Homo sapiens: one gene and its partner. The protein of the gene in region 2 purifies or fractionates together with the protein of the main gene of each other region. This does not show direct contact. Each region holds a gene or a part of one and is shown on either strand. Other genes may lie near its edges.

Region 1 (4,494 bases), on a different chromosome or scaffold from region 2:
CAGCTGGAAGACTCCCCCAGCTTCCCACACACTGTGCTGGGATGCCCCAGGCCCCAGAAGCCCGCCCCCAGCTTCTCTGGAGGCAGGAAGGGGTAGGACCCCAGGTCACTTCGTGGCGGGGAGGAGGAGTCAGGGCAGAGGAGAGGGATGGCGCTCCATGCAGACCGGCGATATTGGGGGACGTGCGGCTGGGTGTAGGGCCTTTGGGTACCGGATCCTGGCAGGGACTGGGCCAGGGTCCCAGGGGCCAAGGCAGGGCCAGAAGCCCCTGGTGAGGGGCACTGGCTCTGGCACAGGTACCAGGCCCCAAAGCAGGTGCTGAGTGCCATCGGAGCTGCCGCCACTCCATCCCGCACGCCCTGGGGCCTGTCCCGGGGGCAGAGGGGCAACGTCCCCAATATGGCCTCCGTCCTGAGAGCGAGCAGAGAACAGCGCGTGCAGGCAGCCTCCAGAGCCGGCGGCCCCGCGGACGACAACCTCTTCCACGGTTCCTATGCCTATGGCACTGCCCCGGCGTCCGAATCTACTCGCACTTTTCCCAGGAATAAGCAATGACTGGCAAGCAGCAGAGGGCGGGGGCAGAGAGAGAGAGACAGAGAGAGAGTCAGAGAGCAAGAGAGATGGTGGGAGGGAGACACAGAGAGGAGGAGAGGCAGGGAAAGGAGGAAGACAGACAGAAAAAGGAAGAGAACGGTGCAGGAGGCAATGGGAGAGATAGGGCCGGGGAAAGGAAGGCGAGAAGCACAAGGAGAGACAGAGGACAAGGGAGACGGGGGAGAGATGGACAGACAGTTACCCGGAGACAGGGACACGCGTGAGCCAGCGAGGGCACACCAGATGGGCACAGAGGGAAATCCAGAGAGACAGGGACGCAAGGACACAGACACAGGCCCAGGGAGGGTCAGAGACAGAGAAGGAAGCCAGGGGAAGGCCGAAAGGAAAAAGCGAGGGTGAGAAGAGCGGAGAAGGGAAGGAGGAGAGGGAGCAAAAAAGACAGGTGCAAGAAGGAAGGAGAAACAGAGAGCCAAAGGGCAGAGAGGCCACAGGACGGGGAAAGGGAAGGGAGGAGGGAACAAAAAAACAAGGAGAGAGAGTAGAATGAAAGGAGGAAACACAGAGAGAGGGAGAGTTGTGCAAAAACAAAACAGAAATGGGTCCGGTTACTGCCATGGTGGGTGCTGCTGGCCTGGTCCTGTCCCTGGGGCCCCTCTCGGCCACCCACAGGAGGCTGGGTCACTCTGGTGGAGAGGAAGGGAGTGGTTGATAAAACTGGGTTGGGGGAGGTTGGGCCTGCTCCTCGCATGACAGTGTGCTTGGTGACTGCTGGACAGCAGAGGTCGGGGAATTCCCTCCTGCCACGTGACATAGCCTCACAGCACTGAGCGCAGGGCTTGGCATGCAGTAGACAGTCAATAAAGGATGGATGGATGGATGGATGGATCGGTGGGTGGGTGGATGGATGGATGGAGATAGAGGGATGGATAGAGATGGATGGATGGATGGATGGATGGATGGATGGATGGATGGATGGGTGGATGGGTGGGTGGATGGATGGATTGATGGGTGGATGGGTGGGTGGATGGGTGGGTGGATGGATGAGTGGGTGGGTGGGTGGATGGGTAGATGGGTAGGTGGGTGGATGGGTGGGTGGGTGGATAGCTAGATGGGTGGATGGGTGGGTGGATGGATGGATGGGTGGGTGGATGGATGGGTGGCTGGATGGATGGGTGGGGAGCACAGCAGTGGGTGCAGTGTCCTGGGGTGGCCACTAGGCAGTGGACAGCAGTGAGGCCCACAGCCATAGGCCGTATTCATCCATGTGCCCAGCACTCCTGAGTGTGAGCAGCAGAATCCCAGAACCTGGACAACAGTCAGTGATCACACAGGAGGTGCTCCCTCTGGAGATGCTCACACAGAAGCCAGATTCCCGACACACAATAGGCAGCCACACCACAGAGGCCCTGGCTGCTGCGGACACACAGTAGGAGGTGCTCACAGAGAAAGTACCCACACAACAGCTCACTTCCTGACACACAGTAGGTGTTCACTGACATCTAGGGCTTATCACACACGATGTGCTCACATAGCAGTCCATTTTCTGACACACAGTAGGTTCTCACACAGCAGCCCAGGGCTGCGCACACAGTAGGCGCTCACAGAGTTGATGCCCACACAGCAGCCCAGGACCTGACACACAGTGGGTGCTCACAGGTACTCAGGGCCAGGCCCACAGTAGATGCTCACAGAGTGCATGTCCACACAGCAGCCCAGGGCCTGACACACAGTGGGTGCCCACAGCCCGACACACAGTAGGTGCTCCCAGAAACCCAAGGCTTGACAGTAGGTGCCCACACAGCAGCCCAGTCCCCAGCAAACAGATAGATACTCAATAAGGAATGAGACACAGAGGCTGTCCCAGGGCTGACCTGCAGGAAGTCACACCTCAATGCATAAAGGGCCAGGAGGAGGGGAGGGCCAAGGAGCTTGGGAAGGGGCTGCAGGCTGCAAGCTGTCAGCACCGCAGTGTCCTGGCCTGGGCACTTCACCCCCCTCCCATGGAAAGTAGTGGCTAGACCAAATCCAGAGCCTAGGATGGGCATGTGGGCAGCAGGGCAACAGAGAGAGTTGGAGTCAGGCCTCAGGAGGCAGAGGAGAGCTGAGGGCCCCCCAGGGAGGGGCCGGGGCCTGGGGAGGGGGAGGGCACTCACTATTCCAGCCGCCTTGGCCAGGTCGGGGTTGTTGGGCGCGAAGCTCCCGCTGTGGCTGGTGGACACGGTGTTGGGCTTCTTGTTGCTCAGCCCCATGGCATCCATGGACTGGCTGCGGCTCCGGATGACCCGCTGTGAAGGGGGTGGCAGTGGAGGAGGCACAGGATTCCTAAGGGCCGTCCCCTTGGGGAAACCCAGGAGCCCAGGCATCTGGTCTCTCCCCAGCAATGCCACTCTGGGTAAGCCCTGGAAATCCCTTCCCCTGGGCATGTGGCCAGCAGGGCAACAGAGGGAGGTGGGGCCAGGCCTCAATTTCCCTGTGCGTCACATGAGAAGCAGGTACATACGGGGCCTAAGGGTAGCTCAGGTATTGGCTCTGCCACCAACTTGCCGGGTGGCCTTGGGGACACCACTTCAGTTCTCTCACTCTCTGGGACACACAGGCTGCTCTGTGCTGAGTGTCCTCATGTGGCTGCGTAAGGACTGCAGAAGACACTGGGTCATGGCCAAAAGTGTGCACAGAGAGCCCTCTTGACACCTCAGTTTCATTCCTGTTAGGGCCTCTTAGAGCTCTCCTGCCTTCTTTCTTTTCTTCCCTCCCACCCTCTTTCCTTGTTTTTTTCAGACCAATCTACACCAAATGCTTGCTATGGGACCAGCGCTTTACAATCACTCTATCACTGGATCCCCCTGCAAGATGGGGACTAGCAATCATGCCCATTTCATGCCAACTGAGGCAGGGGTGAGCCCGGCATGCCAGGACCCATGCCCTCAACTCTGGACTCCGCTGCTTCTGAGAAATTCTTTGACCTAATCTAGGTCCACCGTCCAGCACCTACCAGATGTGGGACCATCGGAGCCCTCCTCAAAGGAGACACCCCAGATCCATATTGACCCCACCTGTCCTGTCTCCAGTCCCCAAGCCTCTTTCTCAAAGACGATCTGTTCACCTCAGTTCCTGGGCAGGCCTGGGCAGCCGGGCTAATTCCCTTATTCCAACCCATAGCTCCAGCTGTGTGACCTGTCCTGGGTTGAGGGTGAGGTGTGACCAGCCGGCCGGGAAGCTGGAGGATGGGCAGTTATCCTCCTGTGGGTGGAGGAGACGGTGGCAAAAAGGCTACCACCTGGGGCCCTGTGGCCTGAGTGAGTCCAGACCCTGTCCAGGAACTACTCCACTCCCCACACTTCTCATTTCAGACAACATTTGCTGAGGCAGACAGGCAAGGTTTTGCATTTTGCTTTTAAACTTGTATTGCACTAACCTAACTCTTTTACAGATAACAATAACTGTATGAGGCAAGTTGCCATTACCCTACTCAACAGATAAAGAAACTGATGCTCACAGAATGCCCAAGCTGGTAAGTAACAGAGCTGAAATTTGAAGTGTCCGTGCTCTTAATGCTAAGCTAAACCAGGGACAGGCAGGGTAGGTCACACAGGCCAAGTCCCTCTCCAATGATCATGGTTCACACACCTCTTCTGAGAACTCTATTTCTTTCCCTCAGTCAAGACAGAGCCTCTTCCTCTCTTCTCTTCCTGCTGACCTAGCAGCCTTTGTACCAGCAGCCCTTGCTGTCTCCCAGAATCCTCCACCCTTCAGCAGAATTCCCAGGTGAATTCCCCACCTAGGCCCCACCTCCAACAGTTACTCCTCCCCAAGCCAGGGCCCCACCTTACATGCTGCTCCTTCAAACTCTACCCAAGGCAGACTATGTCCCCAAGTGTAAGCCCATTCTAAAGCCCAAGTCCACTTCGAGCCCCGCCCTCATCCCAGACTAGAGCCTCC
Region 2 (5,488 bases):
GGGATTTGGGAAAGGCATCTTAGAGACACGAAGTCTTAATAGCCATATGAAGAATGGGAGGGCAATAGGGTAAGCCAAGATGGAAAAGTATTCCAGACAAAGAAAACACAGATAATGCCTGAACACCATTTGGTAAAACTAGAACAGAGTTGGAAGATAAATAAGACATAGGGTTAGGAATATAAGAACTAGAGAAACGCTTCTGAGAGGAAGGGCATTGGCTGCATCTGTTTAGTAATCTTTGACGAACGAATGCTAGAGACTAGGCCTAAGGACACAGAAAAATTTGGAAATCTTTACCCAAACTCTTCTAAGCAGGTATATTTTGACATTAATTAAAATAGACTCTCATCATCTTGGTCAGAATGTTCTCCACTAAAAACACAGAGCCAGGATTCCAGAGAAATGTGCACTAGCCACAGCTCTACTAAAAGGTGACTGGATGACCATTGGAAAGTCATGTAAGCTTTCTCAACTTCAATTCCACAGTCTCAAAAATAAAAGAATTAGACTACATAATTTTAAGGTCCCTTATAAATTAATTATAGCTGCATATAAGCCAAGGACTGGTGGAGGGGTATAGAGATTAAAAACAAAATCTAAAAAGAAAAAAACGCATTGGTATACCTTACAACGGAGACATGAGTGCTGACCAAGCCGATTGCATGAAACACCTGTGGGAAATAGATTAATTTTAAAATCCCGTTATTTGGTTCTTAGAATTTTCTTTTGTCTTTTATCAAATCACTAAAAGCTTGCAATGGAATATAGCCTTATAGACAGCTGCCTGTCTTTTGGGTTCAAATGCTATAAAACACACAAAGCTCCCATGCTGCAAATAAAATAATTAAATTTATTATTATACATTCTGCAAAAGGCGACGAAAGGCTCAAAAATGCTATATACTTCGAGATGCTCTTTTAATCTGAGAATTTTATATATAAATATTGCAAGAATTATATACACATGCATACACATTGTGTGTCTATGTGTGTGTAGTATGTATGTTGTATGTATATCACAGAGATGACTTATCTACTTTAAATTTATAAATAAGTATAATAATTAGGATTTCATACCAGAACAAGAACCAAATTAAAGGAAGAGAATACCTGGGGAATTTCGGTCTTTTTCCTATAATAGTAACTACTATTTAAAAAGGGCTTTTTAAATGCCAAGTACCACATGCTATTGTTTTATATGGTGTCTCATTTCAATGAACCTTCCAAGAAAAAAACTATGTGTAAAGATGATACTATTACCCAGTCAGCAATGCTGGCTCTCAACTGGAAAATACGTGAGAATTTTGTGTATAGGTTAAATACAGGTGCCTGGCACCCACCACGGACTTAAAAGATAGAATCTCCAGGGATGAGGCCTGGACATCTACATTATTTTTAAAACCTCCACAGGTATTTTTGATATACAGTCCTGTCTAAGAATCACTAGAACCAACTAGCAGAAACAAACAGGGTGGTATCTCTTACGGGAGGGCATTTGGAAATGGGAAGGAAGGGTGAGGTTTGGTTTTTTATAATAATTTGAAGGTAAAAATGACATGTGGTACTCTGAACCACGAAAGGTGTAAGTCCTGCAATGCCTGATCAAATCAAGCCTACAAAATGAAAAACTGGCCCAACCAATATGCCACTGGCATCCCTGCTGAAAAATTTACAACTATATTCTGACTGTTCTGTTTTCTAGAAACAGAAAATAAAGACTGAGTTAAATTACAGTTCATGAGAAGCAGTATAAAAAAACTTGATTCCTTTTTCATTAAGATTAATAATTATACTATTCAGAATCTTGGGTATAAAGAACATCTAATACTTAAAAACTTACATTTAAATGTTTCTGCCTCTAAAACCTGGCAGCTGGCTTGATGCTCAAATTGATCATCTTCACAGAGAAAGTTATGGCAAAAAGAACAACTGAATATTCTGCCTCCTATTGGATTAAAAAAACACAAATGTAATTAAGATAAACTTTAATTTAAAAAAACTCATATCTATAATACTGCTTAGAAGAGATGGTAAGTTACTTTGGAGATACACCAAAATTGTTCAGCCATTTTTATTCTGATAAAAGCTAAAATGAAAACTGTTGAAGTCCTTGAAACTGAACTGAAACTGAGAAAAGGGGGCTCTTACTCTCCACTAGCTACCCATATAACACTCACAATGCTCAAAGAGACTACCTGCTCCACCACAACTTCCCTCCATGTTTGGGTAAACAATACTAGCATTGACAATAACAGACAGTATAGATCCCTTCTCTAACTACACTGATAATCAAAACAGTACCAGTAGTTAGGATTGACAGTATCCTGAAAAAAATCTCAAAAACAGCATTCAAAATGTTTCAAAGTCAACATTCACCTATAACAAAGCTCATTACTTGTGTCTAATGACTCACCATGGTCCCACACGCCTCGTTCACATTCAACACACTCAGCATCGGTAAGAGGGCAGGCACAAGCATGTGTACTGAGACATTTCCTACCATGGCAAACCCAAGCTTCACAGAAGTCACATATTGCACCCTGTAACCAAGGAACAAGAATACATAATCATTATCACCTGACCACCTGCAACCATTCTTTAACCACGGCAACCATCAAAACTGTATACATTTAGCAATTTATCAACCCTCAATGATAGTAGGCCGCTTCATTTAAACATTTTACTACTCACTCTAAGCCAAAAATAAAAAGGGTTCTCTGAAAAACAACTTCTTAACAGCTATCCACAATATACAAAACTCAGTTACATATCAAAAGAAAAAAAGGTAAACTGTACACTTATCCTAATATTATTTAATTAAGCCAAAGAGATGGAAGTATTTTCCTCAAAATGAATTTAATTCAAATAAAGTTTGAAGGAACCAACAGCTTAAGCTTTCTTGTCTATAATAATTCCTGTAACTACACTGAATTTTTAAATACTACCATTTCTGATTTTTAAAATACCTTCTTATCTATATATTTGCATAGCTTTTCTAGAATTACTGAGAAATACGAAACTTCTGCCAGCTTCTTTTTTTCTCTTATGACAACTTATGTTTTAATAATAATTACATTTCTTTGTGGAAAAAATTTGAAGTAAAATATATGGAACTAAAATACAGGGTAAGATTCTCCAATTCTATATCAAGAAAAGACAATAACAATATGTTTCAATAAAACATTGACACCTACCAAATATTAAAAGCTAGAAAGAATCTTAAGAGAGTAGGATCAGACAATCTTTCCTTTATAAAGGAAAAGCATGGGGCCCAAGACTAAATCCAAGTCCCGAGTTGGATTACAGGTGAGGTGAGATTTAAAGCCAGGATTTCAGAATCTCAATTCAGTATTCTATTATTCAAGGCTCTGAAACAAATGTAGTAAACAACAAATAGGAAGAATGTTTTTTGACTTGCAAAAATGGGTTATCAGTATAGCTAGCAAATCATCAACTATATCTCTTGGATCAGCCAGGGTTCTTGCAAAAAAGAGATGGTACTCTCAAACTAGGTAATCTAGAAGAGTTTTAAAGAGATAATTTGCAGAGGACAGGGAAGTTCTTAGGACAAACAGGAGAGGACTACCTGGCCATATAGGGAGAACTGTGGTCCTTAGAGAAAGGATAAAACCAAACCAGGATAACCTGGTACGGAGTGAGATGAAGGAATAAACACCCAGATCTTATTCTCCTGCTATTCTCAGGGGGAATCTGGGGAGGCAAATAGAAGATATCCAGAAAATCACTTTTCTAGAATTTACAACTAAAGATATATGACTCTACTTAAATGTTTTCTTTATGTAAGAAGAAATTATTCACATTCAAAAAACAGTGATTTTAAAAAATGAATTTGGCTGAACTTAAGCTACCAAGGAAGACTGAAAGTGTTTTTGAATAAAGATAACTTGACAATCCTATACTTAAAATAAAGAGCAATTCACAAGATGATAATTCTCGCTCCTTGCTTCTATAATATATGCACATATGAAATATATCATAGGTCTCCCTCATAATAGAAGTTTACATGTTCTTGGAAATTTACCATAAATAAAATATTCCATTTGACATAAATATAGTATCATTTTCCTCATAGATTAAAATTTGAACAAAATTTTATTTGAACATAAAATCATACTGCAATACAGTAAAACTGGTTAACTCATATTTAGAAGGAAAACATGTTTCAGGAAAAAGAGCAAAATACATCACATAATCCAGTTGGTTTTATTATTCAAAAAGCTGAATTTACTTTAAAAAATCCTATATGTAATGAAGAGGTATGTTAAATATATACACTTTTTTGAAATGTAAAGTTTTAAAGAACACTATTATCCTAGGTTCGTTTGGAACTAAGTTGCTTATTTAACCAAAGGCTTAAACGTTGGTTAAGCAGGGCTTTCGGTACACTAAATACTGTTTTGTGAAGTCTGGTTAAGAGATATTAGAAAGGTACCACTGAGTATATACCCAAAGGATTATAAATCATGCTGCTATAAAGACAAATGCACACGTATGTTTATTGTGGCACTATTCACAATAGCAAAGACTTGGAACCAACCCAAATGTCCAACAATGATAGACTGGATTAAGAAAATGTGGCACATATACACCATGGAATACTATACAGCCATAAAAAATGATGAGTTCATGTCCTTTGTAGAGACACGGATGAAGCTGGAATCCATCATTCTTAGCAAACTATCGCAAGGACAAAAAACCAAACACCGCATGTTCTCACTCATAGGTGGGAACTGAACAATGAGAACACATGGACACAGGAAGGGGAACATCACACACCACAAACCGGGGACTGTTGTGGGGTGGGGGGATGGGGGAGGGATAGCATTAGGAGATATACCTAATGCTAAATGACGAGTTAATGGGTGCACCACACCAACATGGCACATGTATACATATGTAACAAACCTGCATGTTGTGCACATGTACCCTAAAACTTAAAGTATAATAATAATAATAAAATTTAAAAAAAAAAAGGTACCACTGAGAAATGAAATTCTGTTTAGATCAGCATGAAAAGTTTCCATGCCTTGTATGTTCCCTAATAAGAAAGAAAGAAGCAGCTAGAAACAAGTGGGTACTAAGGGAAAATCATACAAAAAGCATGCCACTCATAATCCAGATAACTACAGATTGATTGAAACAAGGGACAAAGCAATGATATTTAGAAAAAAATAACCACTGATCAGAATGACATTTTCTTATCCTTGAAAACGTACTAGTCTAAGAGATAATAAGAAGCTTACCACCATTGCAAGGCCAGTACTGTATACACCAGCATGCTTTATGACACAGTCTGAAGACTTCATCATGCACTTTGTTTTCCCTAATGAAGAAAAACATTTGCACTGTTAGTCTTGCAAAGGAATACATACCAGTACTCACGAATTCCTCCTTTTATCCAGCCCAAGTTCCTGAGGAAATAATTTAAAAACTAATGAAATTGAATCAGTATTTACTGCTTACAT

The links. The genes of interacting proteins can lie anywhere in the genome.
Region 1: the proteins of ZNF330 (region 2) and RAP1GAP purify together in Homo sapiens (affinity purification with mass spectrometry; one large-scale study listed by BioGRID and IntAct). This does not show direct contact.

The regions. Positions count from the first base shown.
Region 1 is NC_000001.11:21,603,358-21,607,851, forward strand, and holds part of RAP1GAP (rap1 GTPase-activating protein 1), read right to left. Parts: intron 2,841-4,494; coding exon 2,709-2,840; intron 556-2,708; coding exon of another isoform or gene 301-555; intron 1-300. UniProt on the Homo sapiens protein: GTPase activator for the nuclear Ras-related regulatory protein RAP-1A (KREV-1), converting it to the putatively inactive GDP-bound state.
Region 2 is NC_000004.12:141,226,625-141,232,112, reverse strand, and holds part of ZNF330 (zinc finger protein 330), read right to left. Parts: intron 5,347-5,488; coding exon 5,267-5,346; intron 2,543-5,266; coding exon 2,416-2,542; intron 1,948-2,415; coding exon 1,843-1,947; intron 675-1,842; coding exon 628-674; intron 1-627.